7 linked regions of the Homo sapiens genome follow. The protein of the gene in region 2 interacts with the protein of the main gene of each other region in a pairwise test. Each region holds a gene or a part of one and is shown on either strand. Other genes may lie near its edges.

Region 1 (3,500 bases), on a different chromosome or scaffold from region 2:
CATGTGATGCAACGATGGATAACCAAGAAAGAGGCTATAAAAAGAGAGGAAAGGGCCAGATCAGAAAGGGCTTTGGAATAAGGAAGTGTGTGTGTGCGTGCGTGCGTGTGTGTGCGTGTGTGTGTGTTTTAGACGGAGTCTGACTCTGTCGCCCAGGCTAGAGTGCAGTGATGTGCTCTCGGCTCACTGCAACCTCCGTTTCCTAGGGTCAAGTGATTCTCCTGCCTAAGCCTCCCAAGTAGCTGGGACTATAGGCACGCGCCACCACGTCCAGCTAATTTTTGTATTTTTAGTAGAGACAAGGTTTCACCATGATGGCCAGGCTGGTCTTGAACTCCTGACCTCAAGTGATCTGCCCACCTTGGCCTCCCAAAATGCTGGGATTACAGGTGTGAGCCACCGCGCCCAGCCAGAATTTTGTCTTTTATACTTCATTAATATTACTTTGGCGATAGAATGTAAAACAGATTAGAGGATAACTACCAGCTAAAAAGGCTATTATCATAGTTCGAGTGAGAGATGATGAGGGCCTGAGCTAGGGAAGTGACAAGATAAAATAAAAGTACAGATGAGGAATATTGCTATTAGGAATCAAGTGTCTATGACCAAGTGGATCTAAGAAATAAGGGGGAGGAAGGCCTGTCTCCTGATAAGAAAATTTGGTCATTAAAAGCGTGATTACAATCATGTATACTAAGAACTTTACTAAAAGCTGGAGATATGCTCAACAAGACAAACACCATCCCCTCACTTAAGAACAATCTATTGGGTAAAAAAGCAGATAGGAAATTACAATAAAGTAGAAGTACAACAATAAGAAAAACATAGAAATGAAGAAACCCAGAAGGACTAAAAAAAAACTATAAGAGCAACAACTTTCAAACAAATTTCCTTGACACTAACAAGTCAAGTAAAATGAGAACCTGAAGTTTTTTCAGACTAGGCAATCAGAAAATTACTGCAGATCTTTACCAGACAATCACTAAAGGTTTTTACCAGAAATTTCAACTGAGTAGGGAAGACGCCTAATGTAGTATGATCAACATGAAGTGCTTAAGGGCGGTTAAGTTACTAAAAATTAGCAATATGTAAAATGAAAGGCTACTAAAATAAAATATTAGAGACTGCTTAACATACTGTCTCCTGGGAACCTTTCTATAATAGTGGCAATATTGTCTTTCCTTACAGTTACGTATGTGCTTACTACTGAAGTTTTCAAAATTAACAATGCATTGTTTAGGGATACATGCATGGGTGATGATACATAAAGAAAATCAAAGGAATGAATAATCCAAATAAGAGAATAGTGGTTGCATCTAGGAGTGTACGGTTCAAATGGGCAGGAGCTCACATAGAGATCCTGAAGTTTTGAAAAATGTTCTTTCTTGACCTGGGTTAATAGGTAACTGGATGTTAATCATTATTTTTTTAAACCACAAGTGCATTTTGGCCATTTTTCTGTGTAAAATACATTTCATAAAAATGTTTAATGTACATGAATCTGAGATAAGATACAAATCAATCCAAATCTAGTTGTTTAAAAGAAATGAGACTCAAACAGAACTGCACTGCACCTGGTTTCATTTTTACATGACATTTTAGAATAAAAATTTCAAACTCTAAGTCTATCCCTTAGATAGCAAAGAAAAAACAGGTTGTAGTTTGCAAATACATTACTGAAAAGGATTTTCTATAGTTTTTCAAATCATTTCAGTTGCAAAATCAGTAAGAGAAAAATCTCCAACTTATTTTTTACTCAAAAAAATGAAAATTCTTAGAATGATTTTAAATAACATAAGCTGAAGTTCATGAAGTCATCTCCCAGATGAGAGCTTACGTGTGCCAAACAGATTTTAAGGCAAATGCTGTAGTTCTGATACTTGGCAATTCACTTTAAAAACACATGTGCACATACACACACACACATCCCCCCAAATACCTTATCATATAGTTCCCAAAACAATTTCCATTTCAATTATGAAAATTCTGTATTTAGGAATAAGTATTGCTTACCTGTTCCCTACTGAATCTTGAGAGATCTGAAAGTTTGGAATGATAGAAGAAACACCATATTCATCCTGATACTTCTTACAAGATTTGTAATGATGTCTCATGCGATAGAATTTAATCTGTAAATTATTAAAATGTGACTTTTAATTTAAAATAGAACTCGTAAGATTTGAAATAGTGTAAAGAGAGGAAAAAATAAAAGTAACTAAATACTCCATTTAAACAGGAGTTGTATTTTTTTAAAGTAAATGATTTCATCCTTAAGTAGGAGTTAAGAATAGATAATACATTTCTGTTCATTAAATGTAGAGATGGAGAAGAGTCCATCTGTCTATAAATTCACTGCAAAAAACAGCAAATAACTTCACACTTGAAAAGACACTACCAGCAGTAGACAAAAAAATTAAAAGCACTAAGAGGATGCCAGATGCTATTGGGCATGTCTTATTATTTAACTTCTGCAGCCTGGCAGAGTTAGAAAGCACTTAAAAAAAAATTAAGTTCCTGGCTGGGTGCAGTGGCTCGCGCTTGTAATCCCAGCCTTTTGGGAGGCTGGGATGGGTGGACTGCTTGAGTTCAGGGGTTCAAGACCAGCCTGAGCAATATGGCAAAATCCTGTTTATACAAAAAATACAAAAATTAGCCAGGTGTAATCTCAGCTACCTGTGGGGCTGAGGCAGGAGGATTGCTTAGAGCCTGGGAAGTCAAAGCTGCAGTGAGCCGAGATTGTGCCACTGTACTCCAGCCTGGGTGACAAAGTGAGACCCTGTCTCAAAAAAAATTAAGTTGCCAGGAATACTTGGAACATTTTTCAGTTTCTCACTGAGAGGAATAGCCAGAATCTCTCGAGTGTGTTTTCCAGCTTCACGTCATTGCCCTGTCAGTTAAACACTTCCTTCAAAAAGATGTAAAAGCAGATCTGACTTGTGTGAATGCATGAAATAGCAACCAGCTTTGCTCACTGAATTCATTAGCTATTAGAAAAAATGTCGGTGATAAATCTATAGACACATGGATATACTCAAAGCCTAACCACCCCTCTCTATTTTATTCCTTCTCCAAATGATAGAATAAAATCCAGATTAGAGAATTAATGCTGGTTATTTGTTAACACCTGATTTTCCTACATGTTCCTTAAAATTAACCAAATATTTTGTGATTTCTTTCTTCTTCTTTTTTTTTAGACAGCGTTTCGCTCTTGTTGCCCAGTTTGGAGTGCAATGGCGCAATCTCAGCTCACCGCAACCTCTGCCGCCCAGGTTCAAACAATTCTGCCTCAGCCTCCCAAGTAGCTGGGATTATAGGCATGCGCCACCACACCTGGCTGATTTTTTATTTTTAGTAGAGACGGGGTTTCACCATGTTGGTCAGGCTGGTCTCGAACTCCTGACCTCAGGTCATCCACCCACCTTGGCCTCCCATAAGTGCTGGGATTACAGGCATGAGCCACCATGCCCGGCCCTTGTGATTTCTTAAATACATACATAAAT
Region 2 (3,500 bases):
CAGCAAGTCAATGGGCTGAAATATCAGGCATGACTGGCATTTCAATCCACTCTATAAAAAAAAGGCATCAGTAATGTCTTTTTCGAGCACACCACTTTTTGTTCATGTAAAACCAAGCGTTTATATTATGATTTTAATTTCTGCCTTAAGTGAGATTCTGAATTCAGTGATTTGCTATTTATTTAACTATTCCATACTGTACTACTGAAATTAAGAGTATCTCTCATGTTTAATATGACTAGGACTCCAAAACACAAGAACTGAAAAATCTTAAGAATACAACTACAGTCATGCCTGCATAACAACATTTTGGTCAACAACGGACCACTTATACTATGTGGTCCCATAAGATTATAATGGCTATACCACACAGCCTAGGTGTGTAGTAAACGATATCATCTATGTCTGTGTAAGTACACTCTATGATGTACACCAAATGATGAAACTGCCAGACAAGGCAATTCTTAGACTGTATCCCCGTTGTTAAGCGATGCATGACTGTATTTATCTGATATTTTAAGTGATCGCAAATATTACAAAACACACACAATAATATGAATTTTATAAAGCGCTCAGACTACTTTCACTTAGAAGTTTAAAAATTTTCCAACAATTACACAAACCTGTGAGATAAAATAAATCTCAAATAAAGTTTGAGAAGTGGAGCTGATGGAGGTGACGGGCCAATGGGGTGGGACCTAAAACTCAGAATGACCTCAGTAATGTCAAATGTAAAAGTATTTGTTGAAATGTACACAACAGATTTACCCAACCAAACTGAACCTCAGTTACCAAAGTGGATCTGAATAAATTTAAGGTGCAATTATTTCAAAGGGGAACCCTTATGAGAGGCTGAAATAAAACAAAATTTAGTTTTCGGTCTTCCCTAATGCAAACTTGTCTTGCCTCTCTAAAACTGATAAAATCATTTCAAAATCTGAGGGAGCAAAAATATTTATAAAGAGAATGTTGTTAACCCCATGGGGAGAAGAACTTACCTAATACACCACTAGGTTCAATAGGATACTCAAGGATTGATGTAGCTGGTGCCAATGTGTAGGGGTACTCATAGGGTGTATAGATTAAACCAGCTTCGGGCCCTGGAGGAACTATTGCAGCAGTTGGGTGAGGAGTTCCGTTTGGCATGACAGCGGTCTGTATTTGTCTGATCAAAGGCATTATGGTAGGGCCAGCTGGCGTAGGAGTACGCAGGGCAGCTGGTGGGAGAACCGGCGCAGGCCCAGTAATGATCCTTGGAGCAGCCTGGGCTGTTGCTGCAAGAGAAAAGGCAAGGGCTGCTACAGTAAGCAAAGAAATTTAGAAAGAAGTATAGAGACAGCAGTATAAAATACGGAAAAATGAGAAGGGAGTAGGAAAAAGAAAGGAAAAGCAGGAAAGAAGAAAAATAAAAGGAAATCATTAGTACATGCGCTGATCACACAAAAATGCAAAAGCACACCAATCAAATGCAAACAGCTTTCCCTTTCCCAATGTGATTAAGAATGTGCAAAAATTAAAAAGCCATTGTAAAAAAATGAATGACACCATTAAATAGGTTATATTTAGTTCATACATTTGATATATCTAAGATTTCATAAGACTAAAGTACATGCAGAAGCACAATGAAACACTTGCATTAACAGATGTTAAAAAATAATTTGTAACCGGAGTCCACAGAAACTCAGTTTTGGTATATTTCTAAAGTACAGCTTTAGTTTCAAAGTAAAGAAAGAATAATTTTTATTGCATTTAGTCAAGTAACCACTAGGTATATATGTACATTTCCTGCATCTTTAGGAACCAACGTCACAGAAAATCTTAAAAAGCCCTACTTCTAAATTCCTATTAATGATATACTCACATTTTCATGAGTAAATTAATGTCAACAATTTGTAAAGTAACTACTTCTAAACCCACTAGAGGTTGCCTACATCTTCTAAATCTGGCTAGAACTTAAAAATTCTATGTGTTTTAAATAATCAGTAATTTAAACATGGTATGTTCATATAAATGACATGTATGAATCTTAAATTGTTTCAAAATATAAATTTCACATTATTTCATTTTAAACATAAAAAAGCTATCCTCTTACGGCTTATAAAAACATGCATAGATACGCATAAAAACAAAAATAGGACGGAAAAAGAGTTATCACCCACTGATCTCTGTGAACTCACATATGAAATCAACAGGGAAAAATACTAGAGGGAAAACATGCAAGCAAAGTGAAAGGACAGAACTCAACAGAGGGTCATTTCAGTCAGATACACTTCAAATTCACTTTTTCAAAATAAGCTTTCAATATGTTGTCTTTTGCATAAATTTAACAAGATAAGCTGCAAGCCCTACATCTGTAGTTAACCAAACAGAAAATTTCTTAAACACTTGAATTTAGAGATTGTGATTTTGTTAAAATAATGTAAGTTTATCAACCTAAAACTTCAACATGCTGACATAAAATAAAATCAAGAGTGTCCTCAATTCATGAAAGCATTAAAAATAGGACTGTCAGCCCCATATCAAGTGACAGAACAGTTATTTCAACTGTTCACTTTGTATGAACTATTATTGTGTTGCCAAAAGGAAAAAAGTCTGTAGACAAAACAACGCAGACAGCAGTAACCCTGGGCCTCAGAGCTCATTCTTACGTGATTTAATGTTGGCATCTCTGTAGGTGCCATTCAGAATCGCAAGCTCCATCAGCTGCATCTTCTTCAGGCTGTCTTCTCCTTCTGCCTATACATGGAAAACACATGAGATGAAAGCATTTGAGACTGTCCACAAATATAATAGCTATATCTACACACAAGCCTTAAAGTAAGTATCATGTGACTACAGTCACCTGTTTTAATAAGGGGAAAAAAAGATCAAGAACCAAAAGGTGCTAACATAATGGAGCCTGCTTTCTCTGTTTTCTCAGTAAAGGCATGTTGATATACAGCATATTGTATTTGTAAATTTTTTGTCAGTTACACCGATTTATTAAAGTTCCCCTAAAAAGCTTTACTTTTAAATAGAAATGAATGAAAATGTGAGATAAGACTAAACATAACATATTCTCTTCAGCATCTATCATTTTAAAATTACTTTAATTAATTTTATTGTTTTTAGATACAGGGTCTTGCTCTGTTACCCAGGCTGGAGTGCTGTGGCATGATCCTAGCTCACAGCCACCTTGAATTCCTAGGTTCGAGCCATCCTCCTACCTCAGCCTCCGAAGTAGCTGCGACTAGAGGCACGCGCCACCATGCCTGGCTAATTTTTTTTATTTTTTGTAGAGACAAGGTCTCGTTTTGTAGCCCAGGCTGGTCTCAAACTCCTGGCTTCAAGTGATCCTCCTGCTTCAGCCTCCCAAAGTGCTAAGTTTACAAGTGTGAGCCACTGCACCCAGCCAGCAACTATCATTTTGCTGAATATTCCAAAACTCAAATGTGTTCGTTAAACACACACATACACACACGCGCGTGCACATGTGCACACAAATAATTTTAAACATACAA
Region 3 (3,500 bases), on a different chromosome or scaffold from region 2:
ATAGGCCAGGAACAGTGGCTCACACCTGTAATCCCAGCACTCTGGGAGGCTGAGGCGGGTGGATTACCTGAGGTCAGGAGTTCGAGACTACCCTGGCCAATATGGTGAAACCCTGTCTCTACTAAAAATACAAAAATTAGCCAGGTGTGGTGACACACGCCTGTGATCCCAGCTACTTGGGAGGCTGAGGCAGGAGAATCGCTTGAACCTGGGAGGCAGAGGTTGGCAGTGAGCTGAGATAGTGCCACCGCACTCCAGCTTGGGCAACAGAGTGCGACTCTGTCTCAAAAAAAAAAAAAAAAAGATAATAAATATAAAAACTGAAATTATATATACATGTAAGATATATATATGTTACTATCACTAGTACACTCAGTATTTGCATATTATAATGTAAACTATATAAAGTACATCTGAGAGTTTTAAAATAATTAATCTCCTACCTCCACCTTGAGCTTTTTTTTCTGCAAATGAATTATTTTTATGTCCTCAATTTCATTCGTTCAGCTGAAAAACATAATGTCACCTACCTATACAGCTTGGGGGTCTTATGGGCCTGAGTTTAAATACTTGCTCAGCCAAGTATTAGCTGTGGGATCATGGCTGTCAGAGCTTTTCAGAGCTTCTCTTCTACTGGCCAGCTGGGGATAGTATTAACTTTGTGGGGCTCTCCTGCTCTTCTTAGGTTCAAATTATATGAGATATGTATGTAAAACAGCCAGTTTCTAACACATGCCCTTGAAATATTCATTTCCCCCCCAACTCCCTGTAACAGGCTTAGGAGAACTCAATGAGATGCTCTCATGGGAAAATTGAATGCTTTGAATTTTGGTCTCCTTGTAGACTTTGGTTTTTCCCAGATCTGCAGACCATTCATAATTACGCATGGATTTTCTGTTCTAGAAGCACCTTACTTCTGTGTGACCATTTGGGGTGCAGAGCCAGCACAGGTTTTGTGCTTGAATGCCTAGCAGTCAGAGCTGAAAAAGCAAAGCAAATCAACCTGTCTTCTTGCTCTTCCTTGGCATCTAGGCTACCAATGGTCCCAAAGTCTAGTCTAAATGCACACGCTGCCCATGAAGGCATTTGGGGACAAGCATGTGCACCCCCAGGGACAGTTCTAAGTTTTTCCTGTCCTTCAAAATTCAAGTCAATTAGCTGCTGGAAAAAAATCAATAACTCCAAGTTTTAAAAATCCAGTTTATAATGCATCTCCTCCAGCAGCTTTACCCAGCACATCCTTGCCAGAGTGCCCTAAGTTTAGACTCCCACTTTTTAACTTTCTATTTGAACTGCTAATTAAGATAATGCCTGTGAACGCCCTTTGTAAAGTGTAAGAAACTACACATATGTTAATTCTCCTTCTGAAGACATTTGAGTGCTTAACCATCCTTATCTCATTTGTAAATATCTTGTTTCCTTGCTATTGTGGATTGCAAACGGCCGCAGCATTTTCAGTGTTCTTGACTCCTCCCTTTTTCCTCTGAGGTCATGTACCACCCTGGAGCTCTTCTACAGCAACCAGCTTGCAGTCAATGCCCATAAACCTTGGACCTGCCCATCTGTCTGCCAAGACCCATGCCTGAAAAGAGTTCTATAAACATGGCTACATCCTCAGCCTCCTCTCTCAGCTCTCCCCCAGGCTGCGTCCCTGAACCTCGCAGCTTGTCTGTGCCCAGAGAATACACACTAACTGTGATGTTAGGGTAAAACCAACAAATAAACCCAAAACTTAGTGTTTCAAAAGGAAATATATTTTTTTTTTTTGATTTTTTTTTTGTTTTTTTTTTTTGTAACTCTGCTTTTAAGGAAAAAGGGGGAAAGCGAAATTCTGCAGAGTCAGGAAACAGGTTTCCTTGCTAGAGATAGAGACAGTGAGATAAAGGCATGGGGCTTCCCCCACACCCTGCAGCTCAGAAGTGTGGGACAGGAGTCTAAGACTTCCTGTTGTTGGCTGGTATTTACAGCTTTTTAGATGATATGTCCATTTTCCCCAGGCACTTTGGGGCCAAAACTCAGTATGCTGAGACTCAGAAATTGCTCTCAGTAGCTTCATATTTTGATTTTTTTTTGCACCATTCTTATCTATCTATTGCTCATCTGACATCTTTATATGTTATTTAAACAGTACTTATCTGGAGAAATATAACAGAGGTCAAGAAAGTACATACATACAGATACCTAAAACTCAAAAGTCCATCTCTTGTTCTCCCCCAATCACTAAAACTGCCCCAAGCCTAAAATTAATCTGATGGTTAACAATGCTAAATTAATATTAGCCAATAAAGTTATTCAAGTCTTTGAAACTTACAATTTTGCATCATTTATTTTTGTACACACACACAAAGGCAGGTATTAGGTTACTGAGTTGGGTTTCTCACCAAATAGCAAAAGCCAGGGAAGCCCAGAGGTGTTTAATAAACACTTGTTGACTGATTGATGGAATATACTACCTAGTATAATTCAGACAATGCATTCTTTGTCAAAACACTAAGGTAAATTATTGAGTCCACTTTTATTACCAAGCGTTTCTGCTGTATTGAGGAGGGCAGGCCAGCCCAAAACTCGTCCATCAGCCTCAGAGCTCAGGTTTACAAAAGAAACCCTTAGGCCTTACCTTTCACACCTGTTTTTACTCTCAGCAGAGGAGGCCGGGACTGGTCTCCATAAACAACTGTGTAGTTGGAGCCGTGCAGTCGGAGGCCCAGGCCTGATGCAGACCCAGCCACGCAGCACCTTTGGCTCTTTACTACGAATATTATCACGGCTGCAACAAATAGTTTGTGCACATTTTTTAAAAGAAAAAAAAAACTGAGAAGAGTATAAAACTGGAGAAAAAAAAATAGTATGTTAACTAATTTACAAAGCCCGGTTAAGTCTTCCTGCCTCATTCTTCTGAGAGAAACCAAAGCATTAAAATATCAAGCTCTTTGCTCTCCCCAGCAGTGGACATCCATGCTCATCCAGTTGAGTCGACCCTTCCGGAAAGGATGCCTGGGCCCATGACACCTTTACTTCTCTTTGCAGCTATTTCCTGCCTTTCTTTGCTAGGCCTTTAGCTTGGGTCTTGAGCAGATTTCGTGAACAGGGCGAACTGTCCTCTCCTGTTCTGCCATGCCCCAGGGATCTGTGCTTGCCTGGCCTGACTCTTGACCTGCAGCTCTCTCTGGGCTTTCTTGCTTGTTGATTTTTATGCCCACACCTCCCTACCTTTTTATAACCCCCTTTATCTCCACTGCCCACCTGCCCCCTAGAGTTGCCAGGTTTCTCTGCTTGGCACAACCCAGCCAGCTCTGACATGTAGCTGTACCTGAAGATGGTAAAGGCCCCCAAAACTATGTTTTCAACAACCAACATGTCTTGTAGTTATCCACCTTTTCCCGAATCAGAATCCTTCACCCCTTGCAATGTTGCCAACCTATTTCTATGTTGATAATCTGTTTTGTCATTTTGGAAATGTAAACAAATCAGTATACCTTCCTTTTCATCTTTTTCTTGTT
Region 4 (3,500 bases), on a different chromosome or scaffold from region 2:
CTGGAGATATTTTAGTCAAATAATAAAACCACAAGTTAAGGCCTAACTCAAAAACAACTTGGAGAAGTGTACAGCATTCCCACTTGACCGCCTTTGTCCAATTCGCCTTCTCTTGCATTTCTAATAGAGAATGAAGTGTGCAGGACTCAAACAACACTGCCAAAAGTGGAGTTCTGTTCTCTGGTGGTAAACATCACCCCTATAATTTTTTTCAAGCTGCTTCTGGATTACAGTAAGAACAGCCTTTGTGTGCATATCCAAGTACTTTGTTATACAAATCTTATAATAACAGTAAGTTAAAACAAGGCTTGATTTCATAAAATAGAAACTTACCAGAGCCACTGCTTGCCTCTTTGTTTGAGATGGCACTTGCAGGCGTTAGCAGCTGATGTACCTGTGCTTGCTGGTCTGAACGGCTGTTGCCATTTGGGACGTTTTTGTTCCACATGTTCACATTTTTGTAGTTGTATTTGCTTGGATCTCCCCAAGCTGAAGTTCCATCATCAATCTCCATTTTGCGACGTATAGATTCTGGGGATGGTTCCTCCCAGCCTGTGGGTTCTTCTTCTTTTGCTGGGGCTGGTATAGGTCCCCCCAGCCAGCCTGTACCAGGAGGTTTGCCTGTAGCTGGTGGGATTCCCCAAGATCCAACAATGTCTTGTTGCTTGTTCCAGTCTGGAGAGCTGACTGGCTTTGACGAATCTCCCCAACCTAGAGACTGATTAGACTTTGGAGGGTCTCCCCATCCCTGGGAAGGAGTAGGTTTAGAAGATTCATCCCATCCTGATGAATTATTTGGATTTATGTTGTTTCCCCAAGTGAAAGAACTAGTTTTACCAAGTTCGTTCCAACCGGAAACGGACCTGTCACTGTCACTACCTCCTGAGCTGGATTTCTTATTGGCCTCACCCCAATGGTTATTCCTTGAAGTTTCTCCCCAGTTATCACTGGCAGAAACAGACCACCCTTGGCTTGATTTTTGTCCATCACCCCATCCCTGTTTATTCTTTTGCGAGTCATTCCATGCAGCCTTCTCCTCTTTGCAATTCCCCCACTGATTGCTCTTGACCATTCCTGTAGCAGCAGAATCATCTTCCCACCCCCCCTGGCAGTTTGAGCCTTTGGAATCTCCCCACCTCAGAGCAGGTTTGGGATCGCCCCACCCTGATACAGATGAGGTATCATTACCATTAGGGCTAGTCTTATCTATACATGCCCCTGAGTTAAAAGTCTGTGTTGCAGAGCTTCCCCAGGCCTCTGTCCCATTGTCAGTCTTTCGTTCCCCTCTAGGTGATGTTTCTGTATCCCAGGCAGTATTCTGCTTAATAGGAGTCTGTCCCCAACCAGAGTTGGACAGGACACGTGGATCTAAGTCAGTTCTGTTTACAATGCTTTGGAGTAATGTGTGCTGATCAATTTTTCTTCTGTCTCTACTCTGACTTTCCCCAGTTCCTTTTTCCTCAAGGCGTCCAGTGCTTTCTGTACTACCATCGCTCTCCACTGTACCTCCTGTTTTGGCCCACACACTGCTTTGCTCATTTGTCTGAGATGTGGCAGAACCCTGATCCTCTTCCTCAGTAGATTTCCATCCATTTGTAAACGTCTTACCATTGCCATTTGCACTATCATTGGAATGCTGATTGCTAGGCAGTTTGTTCCACTCAACGCTGGGTAAATTAGTGCCAGTGTTTTGTGCAGGGGTTCCCCATCCTCTTCGACTTCCTCCAGAATTTGCGCCATTTCCACTTCCCCATGATGTACTCTGGGAGTTTGCTGCACCAGATTCCCACACACCACCTCCTTTGTTTGTGTTAACTTGAAAGTTAGTGCCCATAGGACCATTTACGCCAGGCTGCATTAGAGTTGCATTCACAGTGTCACCATTAGCTTGGCCATTAGGGCCTGAACATTTGTCTCCAGAGTAATTAGAACCATAGGCACCCCATGTAGTACCATAAGAGCCTCCACTTTTTGACTCTCCATTGCTAAGGTGAGAAAGGGAAGTGCCATTCATACCTGATGGAGCCTGCATCTGAGGATGATTCATTGTGCTCACACGCCAGGCCCCTGTGTTACTACTAGGCAGCTCATTATTCTGCACTGAACCGGAGTTTGGTAAACTAGAGGTCATAAAGTTAGTAGTGTTATTTGGTCCAGTCATTTCAGTGGTAATATTTTGAGGTTGACCACTGAATGAAACCTTCTGTGTACCACTTACTTCAGATTCACAAGTTTCCTGAAGGCTTCCCCAGGTACCATGGGTAGAACCACCACTCACTTTAGAGTTAATACTCTGATTGTTAGGCATCTGGCCTATAGTACTGCACTGAATATTAATGCCAGAACTACCACTCCCTACAGGCCCTTTTAGGGCAAGTCCATTGTTCTCTAATACTGGCCAGGCACCATGGTTGCTAGCTGAATTCAAAGTGCTTGGATTTAACCCTCCATTTGATGAAGAACTTACAGTGCCCCAAGCATTCATTCTATTGTTGCTACTTTCAGATTTGCTTTCAGGAGCATCCACAGAGACCTGACATGTGCTTATTATGGCTCCATGGGAAAAACCCCATGGCCCAGTACTACTTCCATGGCCCACATTATTGCTGCTGCTACCAACTACAAACTTGTTTTGGGAACCAAGTCCAGTGCTATTCCGAAGGCCATCTTTTTCACCACCTGTGTTCCCTGAAGCCATGATAGTGATGTTTCTCTCTGATTCAGAACTGGAGGCAGAATCAGCATCCATACATTCTGAAGCCAACTCCGGATCACTGCCAGGGGCTGAGGGCCATGCTTCTTTTTCCGACAAGTCACTTACAACAGCATTCTTACAGTTTGTGCTAGAATCACTTGTAGAAGACACAGGTCCCCGCTGGGAATTTTCATAATGGGATCCTGAAGTACTGTGGTTTATATCTAGGATAAAGGAGAAGTACAACTATTTATAAAGTGTTAGGCCATTTCAAAATGATACTAAAATCTAAGAAAAATGACGAATATGTTATAAATATATGTGGCTCCTCAATTTAACAAGCTATGATCCTTGGCAGAATGGTGACAAGGGCACTGGTTATCTTCTAGCCACCAACTTTCTATGTTCAACTGATACTATCCTAAGATCCTAGAGGACATAACAGCCCCTTGATAAATACTTGCTGAATGAATACATTGTTAACATATCGGTAAATAAAAGAATTTTGGGCCGGGCGTGGTGGCTCACGCTTGTAATCCCAGCACTCTGGAAGGCCGAGGTGGGTGGATCACGAGGTCAGGAGATCAAGAACATCCTGGCTAACATGGTGAAACCCCATCTCTACCAAAAATACAAAAAATTAGCCGGGCATGGTGGTGGGCGCCTGTAGTCCCAGCTACTCGGGAGGCTGAGGCAGGAGAATGGCATGAACCCGGGAGGCGGAGCTTGCAGTGAGCGGAGATAGTGCCACTGCACTCCAGCCTGGGTGACAGAGCGAGACTCCGTCTCAAAAAAAAAAAAAAAA
Region 5 (3,500 bases), on a different chromosome or scaffold from region 2:
AACAAAACAAAAAACACAACAACAAAATAAACAACCTTGTCACTAAGTCTTTTCCAAAAGCAAAAAACCCTTCCGTTGAAGTTAATTATCCACCACAAAGCCTCTAAACCTGTTAAAGATAATTTTTCAGATCAGCTTTCTCCTCTCTGACTAAAGCATATTAATTTTCAAAATCTTTTAAATAAACCGTTTTTTTTTTTTTAAAGAGATGGGGTCTCGGCCAGGCATGGTGGCTCACGCCTGTAATCCTAGCACTTTGGGAGGCCAAGGTGGGCTGATCACGAAGTCAGGAGTTCAAGGCCAACCTGGCCAGTATGGTAAAGCCCCGCCTCTACTAAAAACAGAAAAATTAGCGGGCGTGGTGACGCGCGCCTGTAGCCCCAGCTGCTGGGGAGGCTGAGGCAGAATAGCTTGAACCCGGGAAGTGGGGGTTGCAGTGAGCTGAGATCATGCCACTATACTCCAGCGTGGGCGGCAAAGTGAGGCTCTGTCTCAAAAAAAAAAAGATAGGGTTTCACTATGTTGCTCAGGCTGGTCTCAAACTCCTGCTTAAGTGATCCTCTAGCCTCTGCCTCCCAAATTACTGAAGTGATGGGATTACAGGCATGAGGCACCCACCCGCCCCTCCTCCCTACCTTTTTTCAGACAAGGTCTCACTGTCGCTCAGGCCAGAGTGCAGTGGTGCAATCACAGATCACTGCAGCCTCGACCTCCTAGGCTCAAGCAACCCTCCCACCTCCACCTCCTAAGTAGCTGGGACCACCACACTTGGCTAATTTTTGTATTTTTTGTAGAGACAGGGTCTCCCTATGTTGCCCAGGCTGGTCTCGAACTCCTGGCTCAAACAATCCTCCCATCTTGGCCTCCCAAAGTGCTGGGATCATAGGTGTGAGCCATCATGCCAAGCCTAATTCTTAAAATCATTAATGTTGCAGCTTGAAAACTAAGTGGCAATGGCTTTACTATTCTTAGTCAATTTTCCTAATTTAAATTGAAAGTTCATAATGATAATAACAATGGCTATTAATTATTGAGAACTTACTATGTGACAGGTACCATGAGTGCTAAATGGTCTACATGGACTCTCTCACTAAAACTTAGCAAGTCACTGGGACAGTTGCTTTTATTATCTTCATTTACAAATGAAACTGTGGAACAGAAAGTAATATGGCCAATTATTAGTGGAGAAACTGGGATTCAAATTGGTACCTGAATGCAGACACCATACTCTCACTCAGATACCAGGTTAAGGCAGTCAAGAAACAAGCAGAAACAGCTGAATCTCAGGGTAAGACTCCCCATAAATGTGCAGAAAATCTGCCCTGAAATTCCAGTTATGTAAATCAGAAGTTCCCCCTACCCTTGCTGCATTTACTTTTGCTTTAAAGAGAGAGAATTCTTCACTATAAATCTTTTTTTAATAAAAAATCCCCCAGCAGCCAGGAACGGGGCTTCTCCCCACCTTTCTCAGTGGTGCCGGTCCCGTTCTCTATCCCGGTGTCTCTCATGCTCCCGGTTCCTTTCTTGGAAATAATCATCATGCCGATCTTCATTATGAAGCAGATCCCGGTGCCTCCTGCTGCTCTCCCGGGACCGGCTAGGTGACCTTTCCCGGGAGCGATGTCTTTTCCTATTAGAAAGATCCTTCAGCCTCACTCAGAAGGCCTACCACTTTCTTTCCAAGAATGTGGTGTTTTGGTGTCTTCTGATATTTGCCTAAACTATTCCTCTATTACTCTATCATGGGCCTGCTGTCTGAGGATTTTAGCTCTTTGAGGACTACTCTTTTTTGGGAAGATGATTAACAGGTAAATTTATCTGTTGAGAACTAATTTATCAGGTGTAGTGCTAATAATTTTGTATGGATTATCTGACCTAATCTTTACAACAGGTCTGTAAGATAAATACTATCAGTGTCCCTTTTTTAGAAAATGAGAAAAATAAGGCTTGGAAAGTTGACTAACTTCCATACACAAGAAGGTCATACAGATAGTTAGCAGCAGAACTGGGATTCCAATCCAAGCTTGTAGGGCTCCAAAACCCATGTTCTTAAAAATATCTGTCTGTATTTTTTCCTACATGAGCCCACTGCCTCACCCACCAGATTCCAGATGTTACAACACTTATTAATGAAAGCATCTGATTAGTTTCTTCCCCAAAAAGACATGAAGGCTAACGTCCAGACTTTCGGCCAGGTCTTTCCCAGATTCCCTGGGCTCCATTTGTCCCCACTCCCTATCCCTGGAAGAGTGCTGCTTGGGGCTGGTAGGTGAGGACACAATCACCAACTCACCTGGAAGAGCTCCCACTGGCACCCACACTGTAGGACTTGGCTTCGATGCCATGAAGACAGTCCTTAAGAGAGGAGATGAGGACACGGCAACGCTCATCATTGGCAACCCGGGACTGTTTGATAACCGCAATGGCTGTGAGCAGCGTCTCAATTGCGTCACTGTAATCCCCTGATAAAGGATGAAGGAGAAAGGCCAAGGGTGAGGAGAGATGGTAAACTAACTGGACCAAAAGGAGAACTCAGGCAGACACAAACCAAGAGTAGCTAGCCGTCCCAAACAACCGCGGTAAAAGAGACAAGGCAGATGTTGCAAGTGTAAAACTGGATGACACCTATATTCCAGCAGTTCGGAATTTAACAGATGTTGTCAGATGAACAAACTGACACACTGTTGTCCAGGGGCTATTTGACATCTATTAAAATAAACAATGTGCATATTTTTTGAGCCAGCAATTCTATTAAAAATTTTCTACTTCTGTTCACAAGTGTGTATGTTTAACAGTGTTTTAGTGTTTATTTTTTTTCATTTTTTTTTTTTTTGAGACAGTCTCACTCTGTTGCCCAGGCTGGAGTGCAGTGGCCGTGATCTCGGCTCACTGCAAGCTCCGCCTCCCAGGTTCACGCCATCCTCCTGCCTCAGCCTCCTGAGTAGCTGGGACTACAGGCGCCTGCCACCACACCCAGCTAATGTTTTGTATTATTAATAGAGACGGAGTTTCACCGTGTTAGCCAGGATGGTCTTGATCTCCTGACCCTGTGATCCGCCCGCCTTGGCCTCCCAAAGTGCTGGGATTACAGGCATGAGCCACTGCGCCCGGCCAGTGTTGTTTGTTATATTATCTTCAATAGGGTCTGGCTATATAAAGGAACATTGGTTCTACAGAATATTACATTATTAATGTACTATTAACAATTAAAAAAGCAGGAGGTAAACCTGTATGTAAACAAAGTAATCCATGTAAAGCCCTTAGCACAGTGCCAGGCACACAGTAAGGATCAATAAATGTTATGTTATATGTTGATATAATAGGTGTCCAGAATATACTAATTGAAACAAGCAAGTTTCAAAACCATATCCTGTTTTTGTAAAAACAATAAAAATTATATAAATTGTCATATGCATAGAAAAAATTCTGGAGGAATATAAACTATAAAAGGTGGTCTTATTGGTTGATGGTCCTTGTATAGAGGACTATTTTGTTTTTGA
Region 6 (3,500 bases), on a different chromosome or scaffold from region 2:
GCATGAAGTAGGCAGAGGAGGAACGGAGGTTTCAGAGCTCACTAGTTTAATTCTTTGTGTTTTCTTGTTTGTTTTTTGAGACAGAGTCTCACTCTGTCACCCAGGCTGGAGTACGGTGGTGCAATCTCAGCTCACTGCAACCTCTGCCTCCCAGGTTCAAGCGATTCTCCTACCTCAGCCTCCCAAGTAGTCCCTGCAGTTGGGACTACAGGTGCATGCCACCACACCTGGCTAATTTTTGTATTTTTTTGGTAGAGATGGGGTTTCACCATGTTGGCCAAGCTAGTCTTGAGCTCCTGACCTAAAGAGATCCACCCGCCTCGGCCTCCTAAAATGCTAGGATTACAGGCATAAGCCACCACGCCTGGCCTCACCAGTTTAATTCTTACATGGGGTCAGGATGGGATAAATATAGAGGGGATGTGAATAAAGACCCAGACTGAAGAAGGCAGTGGACACAGGGGACATGGAGGGCATGTGTCAGTTGGGTGGCCCTTCTCAATGTGGCACATTTCTTGCCGTCATGTATTACTGCGTGCTGTCGTTTGCAGAATGACATCTCTGAAAAGGAGCAACGATGGGGAGCCAAGACCATCGAGGGGTCTGGACGCACAGAACACATCAAGTAGGTGCCGAAAGGACTGGAGAAAAGGAAGGGGGTTATGGGAAGAGCCCAAAGAAAACTCGGAGACTTGGGGGAAGGTGAGGGAGGAAAAGGATAGGGTAGTTCATGTCTATGTATTATTGTGTTTGTTTTTTTTCTAGAGTCTGTTCCTGTGTGTACCTGTGTGTCATTGCATATTTCCATTTTATGTCTCTCCTCTTACCCTCCTCAACCCTATTATCTATCTTTTATACCTAACAACTCTGCTATTTCCCCAAGTGGGTCTATTGGATTAACTGCCTCCCTTCCTTTAGTAAGGCATGAGAGATTCATAGAGGAAGTGGACCAAATACTAAGGTCCTCTCTATCTATCTACCTGGCAATCATCTATCTCCTATCTATCTCTTCAGATAAATGTAAATATGTATTTAGAATTCAGGGTGACTTCCTTCAGATGAACTAAGAACAATTCAGTAAAATGTCAAGGTGAAGAACTCAGAATAAATGCTATAAAAAGAGGCCACTTCAGCTCCCATAACTGGCCCAAATAACTTTTAAAATACAGATTTGTACTTAGCTATTTGACAGAAGTTGGAAGCCATGAATGGTAATATGAAGAAATGTAACACTTGGAAAACCTGTTGATAAAAACTATTTTGGCAACGATGTTCAGGGATCTTTAAGATTATAGCCCCATATGCATTTTACCAGAAACAAACAAACAAACAAAACCCTCCGATACCAGAAGATAAAAGGAACTTACAGACATATCCAGGGGTTTCTGTGGGATATGTCATACATTCAGGCTGAGAGATCCCCTTCTCTCTTCCACGGATGATTCAGGATCATCTAACCAGGACCATCTGCTTTGGATAGTATCAGAATGTCAAACATTAGTAGCAAGGTAGACACAATAAATAGTGTAACAAGCAAAAATTCAACAACTACACACAAAATGGCAAGATTAATACAGTTTTAAGCTCCATTTTTAACTCCCCCTACCGCACCCTAAAAGCAGTGTTTTTACCTCTAGATTTTAAAAAGTGTCAGTGGATGACCACATTGCACAAGCAACATACTGTGAAAGCCTGGCACAAGTTTCTACAACTGGATGACAATACCACATTGTTTAATCAGAAATAAATGGTTTCGGCCGGGCGTGGTGGCTCACGCTTGTAATCCCAAAACTTTGGAAGGCCGAGCGAGGAAGATCACTTGAGGTCAGGAGTTCAAGACCAGCATGGGCAACATGATGAAACCCTGTGTCTACTAAAAATACAAAAATTAGATGGGCGTGGTGGCGGGCACCTGTAATCCCAGCTACTCAGGAGGCCGAAGCACGAGAGTCTCTTGAACCCAGGAGGCACAGGTTGCAGTGAGCTGAGATCGCACCACTGCACTCCAGCCAGGGTGATAGAGCGAGACTCAGTCTCAATAAATAAATAAATAAATAAATAAATAAATAAATAAATAAATGGTTTCAATTAAGTAGCTATAATGAATATTATTCTTAAACCATGCCATTCTGGAAAAAGATTGAAACAATGGAACAGGGTCATTCAGGAAGCTTCTGTGATACCCCTCTATAGACTCATAGATCAAAAAAAAAAAAAAAAAAACCACAAGACCCTTTTCCTTTTCTGAATAAAGGCCACTCAACGCTGGTATTCTGGGAATTGTCCAGATGAGGATGCACACTTCATGCCTTTGGTGGTATTGTAGCCAATGAGGTTTATCCGAGGTGTGATTATTGCTAATTGAAAACTTCCCAACACTCCGCCATGACGACTTGCAATATAGTAGGCATTGGCAAAAAAAAAAAAAAAAAAAAAAAAAAGAGCAAGCAACCCTCATAAAAAAATGAAATAACTTAAAAAAAAATAGCCACCCTGAAGATGTATAGTTACAGGTCAATGGGATAGCCAATGTCTAATGCAGTACTTAGCACTTCTGAGCAGCTCAGTGATGTTAGTTTTGTTTCCTGTTAATATAGGTTAGTTTAATCAGATTTCCTTTCTAAAATCTAACAAACATGTAAACAGACAACAGCCCTTTTTTCTCCTAAGTGGTGTCTACCTGGACTGTTGGATTGCACAACTCCTATACACAGATCACTCTGACGGGTGCTGCCTGGAGTGGTACAACATGGTGACCCTGCACATTTCCTTGTTAACCTAACTGAATCTATCAGATAGAATAAACGATGGAGATATTGACAAAAAAATCTCGCTCATCTCCCATTTACCCAGGTTATCAAGGAGTGAAAGCCTGGTATCTGCTGGTAACAGGCCAGGTGGCTTTAGACAAGTCCCTTTTCCTCTCTGATTCTCATTTTGCCCATCTGGATCAAAAAGACCTCTAGAGGACTTTCCAGTAGTAAGTCTCCACTATTTGGGGATTCCCTCTCGTTAGTGTGGGCTAAGTCAGTCTTTAACATCTGATGGGAATCACCATGGTCCTTGGAAAGGAGAGGGAAATTGGAGAGGAGAACAGTAGCTGTAGATGCTAACACTGACAGATCCCAAAATGAAAAAACAAAAAACAAACAAACAAAACAAAACAGTAGCTGTAGAGCTGAGACGACTAAAAGCAGGAAAAGGAAGTGGTTGCAGTTCTTACTAATCTTACTACCTTCCCCACACCGTGATGTCTCTTTTTAGGTCTGTCTTGAATAAATTTAGTTTGGATAGTAATTTGGTAATTCAGTGAATAATTCAAATGGTCCTATGCATCCCTTATCCATTCTGTAAAGGAACTGCCTGGTTTTCAAGAACTATCACCCTTCTCTCCACCTTCTTTTCTCCACTCTTGCCCATTCATTCTCAAGACTCAAGGGTGTCTTTTCCCTTGACCTGTTTGTTTATTTTCAAATCTGTCACAGACTGATACTTTTGTA
Region 7 (2,517 bases), on a different chromosome or scaffold from region 2:
TAAATAATCATTTGAGTTCTTTCAGAGAGTACTTAATCTTTTAAAAGACAGGGTAAAGTGGAGTATTCAGAGGACTTTACCTAGTTTTTCAGGAACTGGTTTTTTTTGGCTAGCAAGACTGTGATAAATACGCTTTGAGCTCTTCAGAGGAAAGATTTCAGTAACATTTGGTCATGTTTGGTAATAACAATGGTAATGTTTTGTTGTTTTATCCAAATAAATTTAAAACTTTGTTTTCAATTATTCTTTCCAGAAGGCTTATCAGGTTGGTCGCAATCTGTGATGGGGAACCATCCAATGCATCAACAATTATCAGACCCAAGCACATTCTCCCAACATCAGCCAATGGAGAGAGATGATTCTGGAATGGTAGCCCCCTCTAACATTTTTCATCAGCCTATGGCAAGTGGTTTTGTGGATTTTTCTAAAGTGAGTTGACAAACATCACTGTAACTTGATTGACACTTTGTCAGCCAATGTAGTCACATTAAGGAATACCTTGTATTGAAATAATGCTCCCTTTTGTTTCTGTGGCTTTGCTAGATCTTTTGCTTAATTTCAGGAGTGCACAGAGTTGTCCACAGTAGTTTGTCCTGAAGATGTCCCCATCCCCCGAAAACACCTGAGGGATTTGGGTTTTGCCACTTTGTGCTCTGCTACTACAGCTTTGAGGGAGGCCTCTACCCCTCTTAAAAGCTGGCCATGAGTTCACTGATGCTTTCTTGTCTGCTCTGACAGCTTTATGTCGGCAATCAATTATGTAGAGTTCCCATTTTCTTCTTAGCTCAAGCTTATTCATGAAACTAAAATATGGGAAAGTTGAGGTTATTTTTATCAAATATGAGAAATTTCCTGATGATTTCATATTGGATTTAGTTTCTTTCTCTCTCTTGTTTTTTGTTGAAAAGCTTTGCAGATGCAGATAAACATTTTGTTTTCTCAACACTGCCATACTGTACTTATAGGATCTTTTGGAGTTCTTTAAATGAGGAATATTAGAGAAGTCTAAGCTGGTATTATGGGATTTATAGTAATTTTATAATTTATAGTAATTTTAAGATTAAATCTTTTTTCCTGCTGTTTTAGGGTCTGCCAATTTCCATGTATGGAGGCACCATAATACCCTCTCATCCTCAGCTTGCTGATGTTCCAGGAGGCCCTCTGTTTAATGGACTTCACAATCCAGATCCTGCTTGGAACCCTATGATAAAAGTTATCCAAAATTCAACTGAATGCACTGATGCCCAGCAGGTAAAATGGGCTTAATGCTCTTTTGTTTTTTAGATTTGTCACATCATTCTTTTTGTTTTGTGAGAAGTATAAGTACTGAATATCAAAAGTCATAATTGACCATTTCGATCTGGATTGCTTTTTCAATATCAAGATGATGCTACTGAACACTTTATTTAATATATGTGTATTCTTCCTAGGCAGAAACAGTGAATTGCCATTGCATTTATATATTCATTTTGTAACTGTCTAAAGATTCCTAATTAGAAATTCCAATTTTTCCTCCCCCTTTTCAGATTTGGCCTGGCACGTGGGCACCTCATATTGGAAACATGCATCTCAAATATGTCAACTAAGTTAGAAGGTCTTTACTCTTTAGCCTTGTTTAAGAAACCTATGACCTTGGAAGAACCATGGGGATTTTTTTTTAATGTGCCTAAGAAATTTTCTCTGAGGCTTTAGCAATGGAAATTTGATTGCCCATTGTATAAGAACAAATTGATTTCCTATCCACCTGATTATGTTCTCTGGTTAGTTTAGCCATTTTGAACTTAAGATCATATGACCTTAGTGCTTTTGGCTAAACATACAGAATACTACTTGTATGCAGAAGAGAATTAGTTGATTACATGTTTCAACCTTTTAGGGTGATAAATACATGTATAATTGTTTACATACTTAAAAGGAAAAAGTTGAGTAAATTTCTTGTCATATAGTGGCTCTACGTAATGTAGCCTGTATTAATGTGAAATATTTACCAGAATATTCAATAAAAAGATGAACAGTCTTTAGAAGTGGGGTGTGATCCTTTCAGTGGTCATGCAGGTACCACTCAATCCACATTATATTGAACCAGATGGTTAATACTATATTTGTAACAGGCTTCTCACATTTAACACTTGAGTCCCTTCTTAGACTGCCTTAAAAAAGCACTTTTAAGACTATTTACCTATTTATTCTGTGTTAAACATTCCTTGTTCCCTTGTTGTCTTCCATAATCCTTTAACATATGAGAAAGTTTCAAGCTCTGGCAATGTGTCTTATCTGACTTTAGCTAGCAGATAGGCCACTGATAGGTTTTTTCTCTATGGATCATGAGAATGTCAATAAGAACAATTGGATTTAAATCAGATGACACTAAACAAATGTAGGGACACCCAAATTATCAACTTCAGGTTCCTTCTGTGCTTCCTGACCTTTTTTATCTGAAAGATTTGTCTGGTTATAGATATTTTAAGCTTTATATGAGTTGGGACATAAGGAGGTGACTCCTGTCATTCTGTTGTA

What was found.
Region 1: the proteins of QKI (region 2) and RNF138 interact in a two-hybrid assay, tested with the Homo sapiens proteins (one large-scale study listed by BioGRID and IntAct).
Region 3: the proteins of QKI (region 2) and MBNL2 interact in a two-hybrid assay, tested with the Homo sapiens proteins (one large-scale study listed by BioGRID).
Region 4: the proteins of QKI (region 2) and TNRC6A interact in a two-hybrid assay, tested with the Homo sapiens proteins (one large-scale study listed by BioGRID).
Region 5: the proteins of QKI (region 2) and CPSF7 interact in a two-hybrid assay, tested with the Homo sapiens proteins (one large-scale study listed by BioGRID).
Region 6: the proteins of QKI (region 2) and HCLS1 interact in a two-hybrid assay, tested with the Homo sapiens proteins (one large-scale study listed by BioGRID and IntAct).
Region 7: the proteins of QKI (region 2) and ANKHD1 interact in a two-hybrid assay, tested with the Homo sapiens proteins (one large-scale study listed by BioGRID).

Annotation. Positions count from the first base shown.
Region 1 is NC_000018.10:32,112,374-32,115,873, reverse strand, and holds part of RNF138 (E3 ubiquitin-protein ligase RNF138), read right to left. Parts: intron 2,130-3,500; coding exon 2,014-2,129; intron 1-2,013. UniProt on the Homo sapiens protein: E3 ubiquitin-protein ligase involved in DNA damage response by promoting DNA resection and homologous recombination.
Region 2 is NC_000006.12:163,561,218-163,564,717, reverse strand, and holds part of QKI (KH domain-containing RNA-binding protein QKI), read right to left. Parts: intron 2,737-3,500; coding exon 2,649-2,736; intron 1,299-2,648; coding exon 999-1,298; coding exon of another isoform or gene 973-998; exon of another isoform or gene 52-972; coding exon of another isoform or gene 8-51; exon of another isoform or gene 1-7. UniProt on the Homo sapiens protein: RNA reader protein, which recognizes and binds specific RNAs, thereby regulating RNA metabolic processes, such as pre-mRNA splicing, circular RNA (circRNA) formation, mRNA export, mRNA stability and/or translation.
Region 3 is NC_000013.11:97,225,333-97,228,832, reverse strand, and holds part of MBNL2 (muscleblind-like protein 2), read right to left. Parts: intron 1-3,500. UniProt on the Homo sapiens protein: Mediates pre-mRNA alternative splicing regulation. Acts either as activator or repressor of splicing on specific pre-mRNA targets. Inhibits cardiac troponin-T (TNNT2) pre-mRNA exon inclusion but induces insulin receptor (IR) pre-mRNA exon inclusion in muscle.
Region 4 is NC_000016.10:24,788,651-24,792,150, reverse strand, and holds part of TNRC6A (trinucleotide repeat-containing gene 6A protein), read right to left. Parts: intron 2,920-3,500; coding exon 334-2,919; intron 1-333.
Region 5 is NC_000011.10:61,409,476-61,412,975, forward strand, and holds part of CPSF7 (cleavage and polyadenylation specificity factor subunit 7), read right to left. Parts: intron 2,463-3,500; coding exon 2,294-2,462; intron 1,631-2,293; coding exon 1,468-1,630; 3' UTR 1,463-1,467; exon of another isoform or gene 1,106-1,462; intron 1-1,105.
Region 6 is NC_000003.12:121,654,404-121,657,903, reverse strand, and holds part of HCLS1 (hematopoietic lineage cell-specific protein), read left to right. Parts: intron 1-551; coding exon 552-625; intron 626-3,500. UniProt on the Homo sapiens protein: Substrate of the antigen receptor-coupled tyrosine kinase. Plays a role in antigen receptor signaling for both clonal expansion and deletion in lymphoid cells. May also be involved in the regulation of gene expression.
Region 7 is NC_000005.10:140,537,833-140,540,349, forward strand, and holds the end of ANKHD1 (ankyrin repeat and KH domain-containing protein 1), read left to right. Parts: intron 1-253; coding exon 254-429; intron 430-1,086; coding exon 1,087-1,251; intron 1,252-1,526; coding exon 1,527-1,586; 3' UTR 1,587-2,017; downstream 2,018-2,517. Other genes in the region: ANKHD1-EIF4EBP3 protein, read left to right, coding at 254-429, 1,087-1,251. UniProt on the Homo sapiens protein: May play a role as a scaffolding protein that may be associated with the abnormal phenotype of leukemia cells. Isoform 2 may possess an antiapoptotic effect and protect cells during normal cell survival through its regulation of caspases.